Homo sapiens: one gene and its partner. The protein of the gene in region 2 binds, or shares a complex with, the protein of the main gene of each other region. Each region holds a gene or a part of one and is shown on either strand. Other genes may lie near its edges.

Evidence for each region.
Region 1: GTF2H2 (region 2) and GTF2B share a complex: the UniProt entries of both Homo sapiens proteins name them as parts of the TFIID-containing RNA polymerase II pre-initiation complex.

What each region holds. Positions count from the first base shown.
Region 1 is NC_000001.11:88,863,872-88,867,796, forward strand, and holds part of GTF2B (transcription initiation factor IIB), read right to left. Parts: intron 244-3,925; coding exon 110-243; intron 1-109. UniProt on the Homo sapiens protein: General transcription factor that plays a role in transcription initiation by RNA polymerase II (Pol II). Involved in the pre-initiation complex (PIC) formation and Pol II recruitment at promoter DNA.
Region 2 is NC_000005.10:71,046,982-71,050,906, forward strand, and holds part of GTF2H2 (general transcription factor IIH subunit 2), read right to left. Parts: intron 2,178-3,925; coding exon 2,087-2,177; intron 1,869-2,086; coding exon 1,781-1,868; intron 1,133-1,780; coding exon 1,025-1,132; intron 1-1,024. UniProt on the Homo sapiens protein: Component of the general transcription and DNA repair factor IIH (TFIIH) core complex, which is involved in general and transcription-coupled nucleotide excision repair (NER) of damaged DNA and, when complexed to CAK, in RNA transcription by RNA polymerase II.

The DNA of each region.
Region 1 (3,925 bases), on a different chromosome or scaffold from region 2:
AGGTCAAGATTCCCCACTGGTGCAGTGACTGATACTTTTGCAAAGTTCCCAAACTCTCAGGTCTATGGTCACTCTGCAATTGGTATTTCCTGCCAAATGGACTTATTACCTTGCCAATCATGGTAGACAAATCTCCATCACTCAGAAGAGGATTCTGAGAATCTCCAACTCGAGATGGATCTTTTGTTGCTTTGTCATTGCTGAAAGTTCGCCATTCAGATCCCACATCAATAACCCGGTCACCTAAGAATATAAGCACATATCTGAATCATTTTGTCAAGATAGGGTTTACTTAACTACACTGTCCAATGCCCAACTAAGCCATTTTATTCCCAGGAAATCTCAACATGGACATCTAGGACCAAGCTTAAATATCACATTTCAGACATTTGTCCTAAAGCATTCCTTTAACTATTGTGCCAATCTAACAATAATCCTCTTGAAACATTATGCTATGATATTCTAACTCTTGGAAGAAAAAGTATTAGTCAAAAGTAGCAAAGTACAGCTATTCATATGTGATGCAAAGGTAAACCAATGTAATAATGATTAAGAACCAGATTTTGCACAAAATTTGCAATAGGCATGGGAAAAAAAGAGAAAACATTTTTTAGAATGGTATTAATGCAAATAATTTCATATTAAAATGTCACTAAGTTTGCGTGGGAAATGCTTCGCAGAAAATAAGCCTAAGCTTCTGTTTCAAAGTAACAATCTGATGAAAAACATACCTGGCCAAATAATTTATACAGAATAAACCTCAAGCCTAGAATCCGTGAGAAGAAAGCCTGGTAGGCAAACTTTTCTCTTTAAGCAAAGAGGCAGCATCTAAATATATCATGTCCAATAAAAGCAGACACAAGTAAACCTTATTATTACTGTTTTGGTGAGAAAGCTCAATGTCTGGCAATACCTTCAGAGTAGACAAAAGTTAACACTGAATACTTAACACATACTACTCACTGTGCCCTTTTGTAAATGTTCTCACTTAATCTTCACAGCCTTATAAAGGTAGGTACCAATTTTATTGCCACTTTACAAATAAGATTAACTAGCCTAAGATCACATAGCTAGAACTGAAACGCACATCAGAGTTTGTTCTACACTCCAATTGTAAAACATGACCTTTTTCAGTGAAGTGTGATGAAGCTGAAAGTAGGAAGGAACCAGACCATTTCATCTTTGTGTATACACAGCAAACAGAAAGAAACAAACGGCAGAAACCAGTTACTGTAGCAATTAGAAGTTACGGTACTAGCAGTCAATTAATATAATAGTCAGGGGTGTGAACTCTGCCCTTTGCTGCTTAGCCTTGGAATATTACTTCATTTCTATGTCTTTATTACCTCAGCTCTAAAATTCTCTTTAACCTCATATTTTAAAGATTATAAAGACTAAGCTATTATAATACCCATGTACAGTGCATGTAAAGTGCTTAAAAAGTAGTACTAAGTGCTCAATATTCACTATTTACTGCTATGAAAATTAGAAAGATAGCAAATATTCTGAGTTTCTCCTTTTTTGTGGGGATGATAAGGGAGACGCATCAGTTTAAAACATTAATCTCCAGCCGGGTGTGGTGGCTCAGGCCTGTAATCCCAGCACTTTGGGAGGCCGAGGCAGGCGGATCACCTGAGGTCAGGAGTTTGAGACCAGCCTGACCAAGATGGAGAAACCCCGTCTCTACTAAAAATACAAAATTAGTTGGTCATGGTGGCACATGCCTGTAATCCCAGCACTTTGCGAGGTCCAGGCGGGCTGTCACCTGGTTGGGAATTTGAGATCAGCCTGACCAACATGGAGAAACCCTGTCTCTACTAAAAATACAAAATAGCTGGGCGTGGTGGCACATGCCTGTAATCCCAGCTACTCAGGAGGCTAAGGCAGGAGAACTGCTTGAACCTGGGAGGTGGAGGCTGTGGTGAACTGAGATCGCAACAAGAGGGTAACAAGAGTGAAACTCCATCTCAAAAAAAAAACAAAACAAAACAAACAAACAAACAAAAATTAATCTCCATAGAAGACTTTAAAAGCTTCCAAGTGCTCCGCTAAGTATTTGATCAGGAGGACAGCAAAGAACAGAGAAAACGGAAGGAATTCCACCTAGACTATGCTAACTTTTTAATTTTTTATATAAAAATTAATTTAAATGCTCATAAACAACCAGAGTATAGTGATCATATAATCTTAGTGATAGATTTAAAAAAAGGCTGGGCATGGTGGTTCACACCTGTAATCTTAGCACTTTGGGAGGCTTAAGCAGGAAAATCACATGAGCCCAGGAGTTCAAGACCAGCCTGGGCAACATGGTGAAACCCTGTCTCTACAAAAAAATACAAAAACAAATTAGCTGGGCGTGGTGGCATGTGCCTGTAGGGAGGCTGAGGTGGGAGGATCACCTGAGCCCAGGAGGTTGAGGCTGCAGGGAGCCATGATTACACCACTGCACTCCAGCCTAGGTGAGGGAGACCCTGTCTAAAGTAAGCAAATGCTCAAGAGAATGATTCATTTCTGAAGCCTCTGACAAAATTTTTCTTTTTTCTTTTCCTTTTTTTCAGACAGGGTCTCACTCTGTTGCCCAGGTTTGAGTACAGTGGTGCAATTTTGGCTCACTGCAGCTTTTGCCTCTGGGGCTCAAGCAATACTTCCACCTTAGCCTCCTGAGCAGCTACAGATATGCACCACCACTGCCTGCCTGGCTAATTTTTGTATTTCTTGTAGAGATGGGGTTTTGCCATGTTGCCCAGGCTAGTCGTGAACCCCTAGGCTCAAGTGATCCACTCACCTCGGCCTCCCCAAGTGCTGGGATTACAGGGGTGGGCCACCATGCACAACAGAAAAACTTTTCTTTAAACAACTGAATCACCAAGGTAAAAGCGGATTATCAGTTGGACTACCATGTGTCCACATTACAAAGGGATTGAGATTAGAGGCAGAGTTCCCATGTGCCATCCCTGTATGCAAGGAGAACACGCAAGGAAGGCAGAAGCAGGACAGTAAGTTAGAAGGCAATTTTAATACATCACACATTGAGCAGGTGGCCCGAAACAAGGAGAAAAGCGTTAGATGGATGGCATTACAAGGATTTATCTGTTTCCTCTTCCTCATAATAAACATCACTAAACTTAGGAAGCAGTTTGAATTATGCAGATTTTAAAAAGATACTTAAAAGTATCATAAATTGTCATTGTGCACTGAAACCTTACCAAACCACTGTGCAGTGAGTACTATTCACCAACAAGCCCATGTCTCAAAGAGATCACACTAAAGAGATCAATTTTTCTTCCTTTTTACAAAATATTTGCTCACTAAAAGATACGTTAGAAAAAAATTACCTGCATTCCCAATACCCAATGACCACTATATTTTCATATATGCTCTGTGTTTTTCGTTCATATGTATGCACCTACGTTTTCCTAAAATTTAGATACTGTGCCTGTTTCATGACAAGCTCTTTTCATTAAATTTATCATAAACACCAGCATGGTATTTTTAGACAGAATTTAGTCCCTTTAATAGCATCCACCAATTAAAGTGATACCATGGTGTTCCCATGCACTTATGTCCAAAGACAGAAAAGACAATCTAACTTTCCTATTTGGCAAAATAAAAACACAAACATGCATAGAACAAAAATAACCGTGGCCTTCAAACCCAGAGTTACTAAATTTTAAGCTAAAAAAAATCAACAAATGTCATCAATAACTTGCAATATTTTTATTAACATACATGAATGTATCAAGAGAATGGCATAAATGAAAAGGCAGGAAGGTATGCCCACATCTTTTAAGTCTCTCTAGAAATCTAAAGATAAACCATTAGTTAGCTAAGATGCTTCATTTCATAGCATTTTCTGAAATACCTTACCATGAGATTCATTTGCTGCCTGCTTTATACTGTTTTTATAAAGACAAGATGGATTTTT
Region 2 (3,925 bases):
AAGTGATCCAAAACCAATAATTTCCCCTCCTTTGAGCAATTTGGTGTACTTCCCTGCAAGCTTTGTCTTTGCACAGTTTGCATTACACAGCTTTGATCATCCAGTACAGAGAATTTTGTAGCTTATTTTATTTTTATTTTATTTTATTTTTTTGAGACAGAGTCTTGCTCTGTCACCCAGACTGGAGTGCAGTGGCGCAATCTCAGCTCATGGCAACCTCCGCTTCCTGAGTTCAGGCAATTCTCCTGTCTCAACCTCCTGAGTAGCTGGGATTACAGATGTCTGCCACCATGCCCAGCCATTTTTTGGTAATTTTTAGTAGAGACAGGGTTTCGCCATGTTGGCTAGGGTGGTCTCAAACTCCTGACCTCAGGTGATCCGCTAGCCTCGGCCTCCCAAAGTGCTAGGATTACAGGCATGAGCCACCACGCCCGGCCTTTGTAGCTTATTTTAAAAAATTTTTAATATAAGTGTTTTTCTTTTGTTTTCTTTTTTGAGACAGAGTCTCGCTCTGTCGCCCAGGCTAGAGTGCAGTGGTGTGATCTCGGCTCATTTCCAGCTCTGCCTCCCGGGTTCATGCCATTCTCCTGCCTCAGCCTCCCGAGGAGCTGGGATTACAGGCGCCCGCCACCACGCCTGGCTAATTTTTTGTATTTTTAGTAGAGATGGGGTTTCACCGTGTTAGCCAGGATGGTCTCGATCTCCTGACCTCAAGATCCGCCCACCTCGGCCTCCCAAAGTGCTGGGATTACAGGCGTGAGCCACCGAGCCCGGCTTAATATAAGTATTTTTCTATAAACACAGTTTATACCTTTCTAGCCTTAAAAATAAAGAAAGCCAACAGTATTTTCTGGGTGACAGGACTACTGGTAGTTTTAATTTTTTTTTTCCACTTCTCTGTACTTTCCAAAATTGCTTCAACAAGCATATTTTTTCTTTAAAAATTCTTAAATATTAAAATAACTTGTGCAAATGAAAATGGAGAGCCTAGATATGTATTTTTTAAAAACATAAAAACACTTACCCATACGAATAAGTGAGCATTCAGAACTTGAGCTAGCAGGAGGAGGACTAACATGATGTGTGAGCAACTCTTTGTAATGGCTTTCATCTAAAATAACATGGTACGTGCCTAACAAGATGAAAAGGGAAAAAAAAACACCTTCATAGACATAACGAACTGTACGTTCTATGTAATTCTGTAAAAGTTGTATCATCTGAAAATGTACATTTTTAAAATAATGATTTTAGCTAAATTATCACTTTTAAAACCTTATTTAAGTAATATATCTAAATCAACTTCTCTAGGAATAACTATAATTACAATTGATTATTATTACTATTATTATTATTTTAACATATAAATAGAGACAGGTCTCACTATGTTAACCAGACTGATCTCAAACTTCTGGCCTCAAGTGATTCTCCTGCCTTGGCCTACCAAAATGTTGAGATTACAGGCATGAGCTATCATGCCTGGCCTGTAATTACAATTTAATTAAAGACAAGTTATAAAATCTTTATAAAGAATTACATACAGTAAAATTTCCAGCTTTCCAAGAGTTATAATACCTCCTCTAAATACTGACATAAGTACTGAAAACTCTTTGCATTTGGAGATGATTTCTTATGGAATCAATGATATATTTAAGATGACTGCCCATATTTTAGACTACTTTAAGTTTAGTAGCTCAGAACAGATTAAAACATCCTAATTTAATTAATAAATTATTTCCTACACAGTAATTATAAGCAAATATTAAATAAATTATATATATACCACCAGTTTCACGAGCAAGTACAGTGCAAACGCGAACTTCTGCAGACAATCCAATAACAGATACTCTAATTTTAGCTGCCTTTAGGGTCTTCATAAAATCCAAGTAGATAGATAGTTTTAGGAAAGAAGAAAAACATTTAAGATTTAATGTATTTGAAAAATAAAGAATGCTCTGAAAACTAGTAATAAATTCAATACATCTACCACAAAGATGAATCACACATACAAAAATACATATATATATAAATCAATTTGCTACAGAATTCTCTTTACAGTTATAACTTTGGTTTTGATTTTTTGGTCTACCTTGATTAGATCATAAATATTAGATGGATCGCAAGTTGTAAGGCTGCTAAAGATGATTAGTACTTCTCGACTTGTATGTCCAGGCATGTGTCTTAAAAGAAAGATAAAATACACTCCAATTAGGTACAACAAATTATACTACCAAAAAATTTACCCAGAAAGAACAGTAAACATAGGATTACACATTTAGACTATAGAATATCTCATTTGTTTCAACAATGCAAAGAAAGGTTGTGAGTATATTTTAAACACTTTAATGCAAATTTTTCTAAAATGAGCTATGCACTTCAAAAAATTGTTAATTGATTCATTTAATATTTACCAAGTACTCTCAAGTTCTGGGGGTAGAGTGATAAACAAGACTGACAATGTTCCCGACATCATTAAGCTTACATTCTAGTAGGTTTGTTTCATACAAAGTCTAGAGTATACAATAAAAAATACAACAATATATGGATAAACTTTAAACTAAAATGTGGCAATATCATATGGATCAGCTTTAAAGTGCAGAGATGTGGCTTCAAAACAGTAACACACACTTCTTTCTCAAAGACTATAGTAGTCCCCTCTTATCTGCAGAGGATACATTCCAAGACCCCCAGTGGATACCTGAAATCAAGGATAGTACTGAACCCTATATATACAGTCGTTCTTCGGTATCCTTGGGGGATTGATTTCAGGCCCTCCTATGGATACCAAAATCTGCAGATGTTCAAGTCCCAGATACAAAAGGGCGTAGTATTTGCATATAACCTATGTACATCCTCCCATATATTTTAAGTCATCTCTAGATTATTGATAATACCTAATACAATGTATACTATGTAAGTAATTGTTATCCTCTATTATTTAGGGGATAATGGCAAGAAAAAATGTCTATTTGTTCAGTACAGGTACAATTTTTTTCCAAAAATTTTTGATGCGTGGTTGATCGAATTCACAGAAGCAGAACCCAGGATTCAGAGGGCTGATTATACCATGTTTTTCCCTATACAGGCATACCTTGGAGATACTGCAGGGTTGGATTCCAGACCGCAGCAATAAAGCAAATATCACAATAAATATTTGCAATAAAGCAAGTCACATGAACTTTCAGGTTTCCTAGTGTATATAAAAGTTCTGTTTACGGCCAGGGATGGTGACTCACGCCTGTATTCCCAGCACTTTGGGAGGCTGAAGCGGGCACATCACGAGGTCAGGAGATCGAGACCATCCTGGCTAACACGGTGAAACCCCGTCTCTACTAAAAATACAAAAAAATGAGCTGGACGTGGTGGCAGGAGAATGGTGTGAACCCAGGAGGCGGAGCTTACAGTGAGCCAAGATTGCGCCACTGCACTCCAGCCTGGGCGACAGAGCGAGACTCCATCTCAAAAAAAAAAAAAAGAAAGAAAAAGAAAAGTTCTGTTTACACTATACTGTAGTCTAGTAAGTGTGCAACAGCATTATATCTAAAAAAAAAAGTACACACCTTTATGAAAAATACTTTATTGCTAAAAATCGACTGAACTGTCAGTGAATAATATCTTTTTGTTGAAGGAGAGTCTTGCCTTGATATTGATGGCTGCTGACTGATCAGAGTGGTGCTTTCTGAAGGGTGAGGTGGCTATGGCAATTTCTTAAAATAAGACAAAGTAGTTTGTTACATGGGTCAACTCTTCCTTTCATGAAAGGAATGCAAATGCTGTTTGGTAGCATTTTATTCATAGTAGTACCTCTTTCAAAATGGGAGTCATTCCTTTGAAACCCCACTGATGCTTTACCAACTAAGTTTATGGGCTATTCTTTTTTTGTTTTGAGACTGATTCTTGCTCTGACACCCAGGCTGGAGTGCAGTGG